Linked DNA regions of Homo sapiens. The protein of the gene in region 2 purifies or fractionates together with the protein of the main gene of each other region. This does not show direct contact. Each region holds a gene or a part of one and is shown on either strand. Other genes may lie near its edges.

Region 1 (3,270 bases), on a different chromosome or scaffold from region 2:
GAGGAGGGGCTGGGGTCTGGGCTCCTGGGTCTGAGGGAGGAGGGGCTGGAGGTCTGGACTCCTGGGTCTGAGGGAGGAGGGGCTGGGGCCTGGGCTCCTGGGTCTGAGGGAGGAGGGGCTGGAGGTCTGGACTCCTGGGTCTGAGGGAGGAGGGGCTGGGGCCTGGACTCCTGGGTCTGAGGGAGGAGGGGCTGGAGGTCTGGACTCCTGGGTCTGAGGGAGGAGGGGCTGGGGCCTGGACTCCTGGGTCTGAGGGAGGAGGGGCTGGAGGTCTGGACTCCTGGGTCTGAGGGAGGAGGGGCTGGGGTCTGGGCTCCTGGGTCTGAGGGAGGAGGGGCTGGGGCCTGGGCTCCTGGGTCTGAGGGAGGAGGGGCTGGGCCCTGACCCCAGCGTCCCCTGACTGTCCCCTTTCCCTGCCAGGGTGTGACTCTTACAGACCTGAAGGAGGCAGAGAAGGCTGCAGGGAAGGCCCCAGAGTCAGAGAAGCCGGCGCAGAGCCTGGTGAGAGGGGTCAGCGAGGGCGAGTGGGGTGGTGCGGGATGTCCTGCTTCCCTGACTCGCCTCCCCCTCCCGACAGGACCCTTCCCGAAGGCCCCGCGTCCCTGGAGTGGAGAACTCTGACAGCCCTGCCCAGAGAGGTGAGGTCTGCTCTCGGGGAGGTCATTCCCAGGGAATCATCCAGTTTCTCCCATAGTCTTCTTGCTTTCCTGGGGGCTTGACCCGGGGACCCAGGCACCGAGAGGGGGCTCTGGAGGTGCCTGGGCTGATTCCTGCCCCTCCCCCAGCAGAGGCGCCCGACGGGCAGGGTCCGGGACCGCAGGCGGCCAGGGAGCACCGCAAGGTCGGAAAGGAGTGGAGGGGGCCTGCGGAGGTGAGGGGCTCAGGTGGGGCCGAGCTGGTGCAGAGGGTGGGCCGGGGGGCGGGCAAAGCCCTTCCCATACCCGCTAAAGTCCCTCCCATACCCATTGAACCCCCGTCTACCTGCCCACAGGGGGAGGAGGCGGAGCCGGCTGACCGCAGCCAGGAGTCCAGGTAGGGGCGGGGTGGGAGAGGTGGGGTCTGCGTGCGGGCCGGGCCGGCCCCTGACGCGCGCTCCTCCCCTGCCCCAGCACCCTGGAGGGCGGCCCCTCGGCCCGCAGGCAGCGGTGGCAGCGGGACCTCAACCCAGAACCTGAGCCAGAATCGGAAGAGCCAGACGGAGGCTTTAGGACGGTGCGATCCCACCCCTCCGTCGGGGCTTTGCCTGCTGGGTGCCCAGCTTCCTGGCTTCCCCGCCCCCCCAGCATCGCCCCATCCTCCACCTGACCCTCCTCTACCTGACCCCCAGCTGTATGCAGAGCTGCGCAGGGAGAACGAGCGGCTTCGCGAGGCCCTGACCGAGACCACGCTGCGGCTGGCGCAGCTCAAGGTGGAGCTGGAGCGGGCCACGCAGGTAAGGGCGCCGAGGCCAGGGTCACGGGAACTGGCAGGGCCGCCTGGGTGGGGCTTAGACTGCTGGGAGGTAGAGCCTGGCCTGGGGGTGCCGGCGGGGCTGGGCTTCACTTGAGGGGCGGGGCCGAGATCTCGGAGGCGGAGTCTGAGCGAGGGGATGGGGCTGTGGGCCTGCCGGTGGCGGGGCCTGGCCCGTGGGGGAAGGGCTTGTGGGCTGCCTAGTGGGCGGGCGGGTGCCCAGCAGGAGCCTAGGACCCTTCAGAGCAGTGCTGGCTTCTTCTGCTGACCCCTGTGCTTTCTGTGTCCTCACCAGAGGCAAGAACGCTTCGCTGAGAGGCCAGCCCTCCTGGAACTGGAGAGATTCGTGAGTAGGGGCAGTGGGGATGGGGGCCAGAGGCGTCCCCAGCCTCACATCCCTAAGTTTGGACCAAGGGAGCCACATTGCCCTTCCCAGCTGGCCCCTGGCCTTCCCCTGCCCTCCTCAGCCTCACTCAGTTTCTGCACTTTCCCTGTTCATTCCAGGAGCGCAGGGCCCTGGAACGCAAGGCCGCAGAGCTGGAGGAGGAGCTGAAGGTGGGGGCTGTGGGGGCTGTGGGCAGAGGGCCGAGGGTGGGTGGGGGTGCAACCCGCCAGGGCTGCCCAGCTGACCCTTGCCGTCCCCCAGGCCCTGTCTGACCTCCGCGCTGACAACCAGCGCCTCAAGGATGAGAATGCAGCGTTGATCCGCGTCATCAGCAAACTCTCCAAGTGACCCGGAGGGACTTTCCCGCACCCGTATTTATACAGCTGCTTCTGCCACACGCACCCCTTCCCCCGTGTGAACACGAGTGACAGGGCTCCGGGGGAAGTCTCAGAGAAGCCATAGCCCCCCTGGGACCTCCGGACTGGGAGGGGAGCAGAGTCCCCAGGAGCCGAGGGGGCCACCCGAGGCCAGGATGGAGGTGGGAGGCCGAGCCAAGCAGGGGGACGTTGCCAGAGGGGACCAGGGCCAGAGACGGGACCAGGAAGGAACTGAGGACCAAGAAGTGCAAGGATCAGTAGCCAGGACCAGAGTGGCCGCCTGGAGGTCCCCATCTCACGTGTGATGCCACCCCGTCACCCCTCCCCTCCTGAGCAGGGATCCAAGAATGTGCCAAGAGTCCCGCCAGCCTCAGCCAGGTGGGCCTGTATATAGGGTCCATGTGCAATAGGGAGGGACGTCTTCTATTTTTTGCTGCCCCCTCCCCGCCCACTGTCTGGGGCAGGGGGAGAAGGTATTTTCGAGATAAAGCACAGGCACCACAAATAAAAGTCGTGAAGTTGCCACTCAAGCTCTGTGTTCCCAGCCAGAGGGAGGGCACTGTTTCCTGCTCCTGCTGGGGGGCCGTGCGTGTCCATGACCAAACCACTGGGCCACTTGGGTGGGTGCCGGGGGATGGGCTGGTGCTTACTCACCTGTGTGGTGAAGGAGCTTCAGGATGAGCCCCCAGCGGGAGCGAAGGCTCCAAGACGGAGCCCGCGTGATCGCAGGCGGGGGGCTGAGGGGAAGCTGATGGGGCAGGAGGGATCAGCGGGCAAGACCTCTGGGGCCAAGGATGTGGAGCTGGGGAGTTTGGGTTTTGCCATCAGTGTCTTTGAAACAAATTTAGTCAATTGCCAACATTTAACATTTGGAGAAATTTGTGTGTAAAAATCTGGAATTTTGGCCGGGTGTGGTGGCTCACGCCTGTAATCCCAGCACTTTGGGAGGCCGAGGCGGGCAGATCATTTGAGGTCAGGAGTTCGAGACCAGCCTGGCCAACATGGTGAAACCCCTTCTTTACTAAAAATGCAAAAATTAGCAGGCGTGGTGGTAGGTGC
Region 2 (7,050 bases):
AGCACCGCCCCTGATGCCCAGACCTTCCCTCCATGAAAGTCTACTTCAACTCCAAATCACAAATGCGAAGTACTGGGTAGCAGTACATCTTTTCACTGGTTAATTGTCCACTGAGGCTATACTGCTTTTTATTTCTTGGTAGAGCTTGAATGTGACTAGGAATGTGATTTCTGATCTCTCAAAAACATAATATTAATAGGACTTTAAGGCCTGATGAAACTTCAAAAGGATTCTGTGCAGTAATTTGTCTGGAACCGTCTAGATAAAAAAATTCTTTTCTTACCTAAAATAAAGAAACTGCAGAACAGCATAGTCTGCAACCTTCTTTGTTGTTCCTGTTGTTGGATTTGGGGCTCAAATCCTCCTGAATAAAAAAAAAAAAGATAGTTGGATCATTCTTTGTGCTAAGGCATTTAACATATTTTTAACGATGTAACTAATATCATCATTTTCTATCGGTTGTTAGAGTTCCTGTATTCTTTCTGGACAGTTTTAGTTCCCTGTCTCCCCTCTCCAATGCTGTATCTCTGTTTGTTCAGTGTTAAGTATTACATGCCCTGCAGGGACATAATGCTCATTGCTTGTTATGGAACACAGGTTATTATTATAACCTTTACATTGATGATCATTTTGGCTACAGTGCTTTGTTGTTTAAAAAGTACACATGCACAATCTAGTTTGTTTCTCACAGCCAGGAGTAGGCTGGGTGAATATTTAAGAAGTGCAGACATGGAGCCAGGCTGCCAGGGCTTATGCACTATTCTTTTACCTTGAAGTGCTTCAGTTTCCTCTTCAGTGAATGGGAATCACTATGCCTACCTTGTATTTAGAGCATATATGCACATGTTAATACATGTAAAGCTCTTGGAACAGTGCCTGGCATATGGCAAACAGACACTCTGACATTATTTAGTGAAATTTAACTGTTATTATTGTTGCTCCCTTTTTTTATAATATATTTGAGAAAATACAGACTCTTAAATTCATGTCCTGACAAAAGTCTGTCAGGTAATAACAAGACAGATATTCATGCTTCCTGAGTCTATGTTCCCAAAGTGGACAGAATGATTGGCTGGCTGTCTAATCATACGATTAGTTTTTCTTTGCAACCTAGACATGTGAATTGAGCATGTCCCATAATTGCTGAGTGTCTCGCTTCTTTCTCTGCCTCTCTTGCAGAGCTACGTGGATCACATTAGCAATCCCTGGAACTTTAGTCTCCCCCGCCTTCAGTTTTGTGCCACAGGTCAGCTAGTGTTATTGCTTGGTCGGTTGTCTCAAAGACTCTCTCTGCTGCCACCAAACTTGCCCATTGGGACTAGTTCCTCGTCACTCTGAGAATTTTAAAGGAACATATTTATTAATAATAAAGAGTCCTGACTTCCTCTTTGTGCACTCACTAGGGCAAAACATAAATTAAATGACAAATCATTTGAATGTGAACACTAGGAAGGTGACTTGTGAGCTAAGGTGCTTTTTGCCTCTTGGACATGGAAGTTGTAGCTGGCTTTGTGCTGGACTATGCTAGGTTATAAGAGTATTTGGTTTTCTTGTGCAAAGTCCACAGAAAGGTGAGCTTTGCTTGAGACTATTGAGTGGAAAAATACACACGCACACATTCAGTTCTGGGCTAAGTTTTTCAGTACCTAATTTTTCCATTTCCATTGCTGCAGCTGTTTTATTTGGTTGCTGGGCCTTACATAAACCAGTTTATAATTCCTTAAACATATACTGCTTTGTCAAATACCACAACATTAAGCTCAAGAAATATAAGAAACTCCTGGTACATACAAAAAGTCTACATAACCAGTGGATTAATTATGAAATACCCTATTTAATGTGAAAATTATTCACTTTTTTTGTTTTGACTGTATACACAGTCCCTTTTACGCCACAGCATGTATTAGGTGAGGGGCTGCCTCCAGAATGATCCAGCCGAGATGGGCTTCCATCAGTGTAACATGACTACCCTCTAGTGGTTTTATAGAGAATGACATAGCTATTCATTTGTTTAAAAAAAAAACGTTTAGCAATAATTTTAAATATTTTATTTTATTTTAATTGACATATAATAGTTATACATATTTATGGGATATGTAGTAATGTTTCAATAGAAATATTACATAATGACCAGATTAGGGTAATTAGTATATCCATCATCTCAAACATTTATCATTTCTTTGTATTGGGAATATTCAACATATTTATAGGTCCTTGACATTTCAGAAAACCATGTAATCATTAGGCAGTTAGTGTAAGTAATACACACATGAGGCAGGCAGAGCAGAATAACACTTTAGATGCATGTTTTCTCTTTCTGAAGAGTTACAAAGCAGTTGATAGATATTCATGAATGTAGCTGCTGGGCTAACCATTTATGCCCATTTTGTGAACCGTTATTATGAGTCAGCTTCACTTTTTGAGTGATGTGGACTGTGGACATAGTGTCACCCAACTGAGGCTCCCACATAGTTTAGAACATACATGAGAGCAAAGGCCCTGGGTCAGGGCTTTCCAGAGCCTGACAATCTGCTATGTTAAGGCTGTTTTTTTTTCTCTGGTATTTCTACAGGGCAAAACCTCAGAGAAATATCTTAGTTTCTTATGATCATTAGAGCTCTGCAAAAGTCAATACTGTGCTTTGTTTTTGTACCTCTGTCTACTTCCTGGTCAACTCAGGCCCAAGGAATTAAAAAAAATGACCACACACACACACACACACACACACACACCCTGCCACACCCCTCCACACCCTTCCACAGAGTTAAAAAAATCAATAGGTAGGAAAATACAGTTAGTGCAGTGGTTAAGGGTCCTCATTTCTGGCTATATGACTATGGACAATTATTTGACCTTCCTAACTCTCAGTTTATGCATGAGAAAAATGGGCTCAATAATGAGCATAGTGTATGCCCATGGAAAAGAGAAAGCATTCTCATTAAGCATTTGTGGTGATGATGATGATGATGATGATGATGATGACATCATCAAAAGCTCCAAAGGGTAAATTGCTGCATTTGCCAAAGGCAGAACTGGATGAGATGCATGCTTCATAAAATAAATCAAGGGTAGACAGGATGGCTTCATCGACTCTTCCTTCAGAGGATAAGCAGCAATTTGGAATAAACTCAGCAAGGTAAAAAAGAAAAAGAAAAACTTCTCCTGAAGTGTGTTGATGGGGAACCAAATGTGAAAATCTAAAAAGCTATCCTTCTGCTTTTTAATATTGTTAGTGTATTAGAGAATAAATTACTTAAAACTTAAGGTTTTTGGCTGGCTCTACAAATGTTGAAAAAAATTTGAATTAGTTGCTAACATTTAAACATTGGGAGATATTTATTTAAAGACTCAGCTTCCTGGCCTCTCTTGAAAATTATCAGAAGTTCTGGCAACACTGGCCTGTATTCCCCGATGACAGCTGTTAGCTGGAGAAGAGCTGCTGCCCGCATCCACTTTCCAGCTCACCACAGGCCTCACTCCTCCCTTTGGTCTCCCCAACACTTACGTGGAATATTAGTGGCCAAATTTCATTGCATTTGTACTTTACGTTTTCATCTGGTAAAAACAGTGGGGGAATTTCTTAATCCAGGCTTGTTTCTTTATAACATCAGGGATCAGCAAACTTTATTTGTGAAGGATCAGATTATTTGGCTATGGGCACCATATTGCAGCTATTTAACTCTGCCCTGGTACGCCAAAGCAGCCACAGACAATATGTAAACAAATGACCATGGTCGTGTTCTAATAAAACTACAAAAACAAGATTTAGCTCATGAGCTGAAGTTTGCCCACCCCTGATCTCAATGACCATCCCAGCCCCTGTGCTCATTTGGTTTTCTACCTCTTCTTTGGGCATTTCCTTCTCCTAAACTTGATTTGATTTTAAGGCACACCTGGTATGTCTCAGTGGGAACATTCCTAGTGATAAGGTGCATGAAAATCGGATTTAGATCTGGCTCATCTTTTAAACCTTAAAAAAATCAACTTCACCTTTAACTGCATCTGGTGTTAAGGATCTTAACAGGTGCTGCTAAGGGCATAGTTCTGCTACAGCTTTATCTATAGATGCTGTGGATTAGGGAGAAGCTTTCTCAGGGACCTCATCATTAAAAGAAAACACATAATGATCTGCTTCATACTTACTAGGTATAGTTGAATGAAAGTATATGGGATAAATTAGGGAAAATTACTTATATCTCTGCTTATCTATAGCTTTGAGATGGATAAATTCAAAGATAATTATTCTCCCTTAAAACTTATTAATATATTGCCCTATGACATTGCTTTGTGTGGATCGAAGTGTATGCACCAGAGGAAGAATGAGATGTTATGTAAAGCAGGATCTCTAACCTACCTTCCTTCTAAAAATATGTGAGATATATATGAATAAGACCATATTACTACAGTAAGACCAACAAAAGACATATAAAAAGACAACTGAAATAGAAAAAGAAAAGTAAAAACCACAGAGAAAGAAGGAGAGTAACCAAATATAAGCAAATATGTAGTTGAACATGTAGATTTGGCTTCCGGCTTTTTGGCTGAAAGACCAGGTTAAGATGGCTGAGATGGAATGAGGATCCCTATATTATTTTGGCATACACAATTTGTTTTACACTGACTTCTCATCACCACTTTTGCAATAATTGTGTGAAAGTGCTGCTAGTGCACTGGGGTAAACATTCAGCAGAAATTCCTCTTTGTTATGGGGTGCTGTGCCTCAGAGAGTGTGCCCCATTGAGGGCAACATACAACCCTTAAACACGACAAAAGGAAGACAAGCAAGAAATGTCCCCCAGAGAACCTGCTATTGCAAAGTTCATGTTGGGGTCAGCCCTTCATGAGAAAAATATGAAAATTTGTAGGGCACATGGCACAGCCTTCTAAAAGACATTAATCAATAATATCTTAATAATTGTAATAATAGCCCCTATTTATCAGGTGCTTCCAATTGTAGAATTATTATTATTATTATTTTTAAGACGAAGTCTTGTTCTATCGCCCAGGCTGGAGTGCAGTGGCGCGATCTCGGCTCACTGCAACCTCTGCCTCCCGGGTGCAAGTAATTCTCCTGCCTCAGCCTCCTGAGTAGCTAGGACTACAGGCATACACCACCATACCTGGCTAATTTTTTTGTATTTTTAGTAGAAATGAGGTTTCACCATTTTGGCCAGGCTGATCTCAAACTCCTGACCTCAGGTGATCTGCCCACCTTGGCTTCCCAAAGTGCTGGGATTACAGGCATGAGCCACTGCACCTGGCCTGAATTTAATTATTAGGAAGACATTATCCCATCTTGTAGATGAAGAAACTGAGAGATTAGTGACTTGCTAATGTCACATTTTTCATAAATGATAGGGCTAGAATGTAAAGCTATTTGTCTCCAAAACCTGTGTTTTTAACCGCTAAACTATACTTCTCCCTGCCCGGATGTTGCTCAACTCTTAGAAGTAAGGAATACTGCTACTTGCATTCAAAAGAAATATAATGTGAGCCACAAATGTGAGTTGCATGTATGATTTTAAATCAAGTAGCCACATGAAAAAGGTAAAAATAATCAAGTGACATTAATTTTAATAATATAGTTTACTTAACCCACTGTGTGCAAAAGATCATTTCATCATGTAATAGACACAAAAATTATTAATGAACTATTTTACATTTTTTCATATCAAGTCTTTAAAATCCAGGTGTGTTTGATCCTTAGTTCATCTCCATTTGGCCTCATCACATTTCAGCTCTCAATAGGCACCTGTGGCTGGAGGCTACCATGGTGCACGGTGCAGCTCTACTGATGGAAATGGGGGTTAGAGACACTGAGGTCTCTTTCTGCTTTTAATTTCCATGAAAACCCAAGTCCAAGGAAGGGATCTTATTATCATCATCATCATCATCATCACCAATCATCACCAGTCATCATCCATCGCTTCCAAAAGCGTTTGTTAAACCCCTTATCTGAGCGCTGCTGAGCCATGCCCTCTGCCAGTTTGCATCAATGAGGATTCTCCTGTTCACATGTGCAATCTTCTGTGTGTTTCAGGTGACCCAGGCCCTGCCAGCTATGGCAGAAATGGCCGAGACGGTGAGCGAGGCCCCCCAGGGGTGGCAGGAATTCCTGGAGTGCCTGGACCCCCGGGACCTCCTGGGCTTCCCGGTTTCTGTGAGCCAGCCTCCTGCACCATGCAGGCTGGTCAGCGAGCATTTAACAAAGGGCCTGACCCTTGAAAGGCTTACTGCTGCATGGCTGTCTGCATGAACCACGCCTGGTGAAGGAGCCTGGGTGAGAAACACCATCCAAAGCTGGGGCAAAGATGATTACCTTCAGCATGATTACAATGTATTACCTTCAGTATGATTACAGAAGTCCTACTTGACAATCACATATAGAAGAACGGTGCTATTCAGTAAGTTCTCTTTCCTTTCCCTTGGAGGGAAGACAGCAGAGTCATCAGTTAAAAAAAAAAAAAGAAAACCAAACACCTCCCTTGAATAAATTTATACTCCTGTTCCCAGGATCTTGAGCTTTAGTGTGCTATACCTATGTGTCTTATCGTGGGCCACTGTGCCAATAAACAAAAACAACTGTTTGGTTTACCTCAGTTGCAGTAGTTATTTTCATTTAGAAGTTGTTCTCAGATTATTGTTTCAGTTATATAGAGGATTACTAGACTAGTTATGAAGAAACCCCACTACATTCAATGGAATTGGTGCTTAAAATCTCATCGATGTGCTGTCTCTGGAGTGATAAGAAAGGGCTACATCTCCCGAAATGATTTCTTTACGTCATGTATTGGTTTCCTTCTTCACCTTGAACTTTTGTTGAACTGTATGTACTTTACCCCAAACCTGTTAATATTTTGAGCGCTTCTATGTGAAAGCAAAGAAATAATTTTAATACTCTGGCATTCATAAATTTTATTGATGAGATTATTTATTTTAAAGGTTTGAGGTAACATCTCTGGTTGTACCAAAGAAGAAATAAATATGGTTTCTTAATCTCTTGCATGTTTTCTTATAAATAATCATGTTCAATGAAAAGAAGTTACTGAG

Evidence for each region. The genes of interacting proteins can lie anywhere in the genome.
Region 1: the proteins of COL9A1 (region 2) and PPP1R12C purify together in Homo sapiens (affinity purification with mass spectrometry; 3 studies listed by BioGRID and IntAct, with this or other methods). This does not show direct contact.

Annotation. Positions count from the first base shown.
Region 1 is NC_000019.10:55,090,384-55,093,653, reverse strand, and holds the end of PPP1R12C (protein phosphatase 1 regulatory subunit 12C), read left to right. Parts: intron 1-420; coding exon 421-501; intron 502-577; coding exon 578-638; intron 639-785; coding exon 786-871; intron 872-991; coding exon 992-1,032; intron 1,033-1,109; coding exon 1,110-1,212; intron 1,213-1,327; coding exon 1,328-1,432; intron 1,433-1,744; coding exon 1,745-1,795; intron 1,796-1,953; coding exon 1,954-2,004; intron 2,005-2,095; coding exon 2,096-2,182; 3' UTR 2,183-2,736; downstream 2,737-3,270. UniProt on the Homo sapiens protein: Regulates myosin phosphatase activity.
Region 2 is NC_000006.12:70,216,072-70,223,121, reverse strand, and holds the end of COL9A1 (collagen alpha-1(IX) chain isoform 1 precursor), read left to right. Parts: intron 1-6,040; coding exon 6,041-6,225; 3' UTR 6,226-6,996; downstream 6,997-7,050. UniProt on the Homo sapiens protein: Structural component of hyaline cartilage and vitreous of the eye.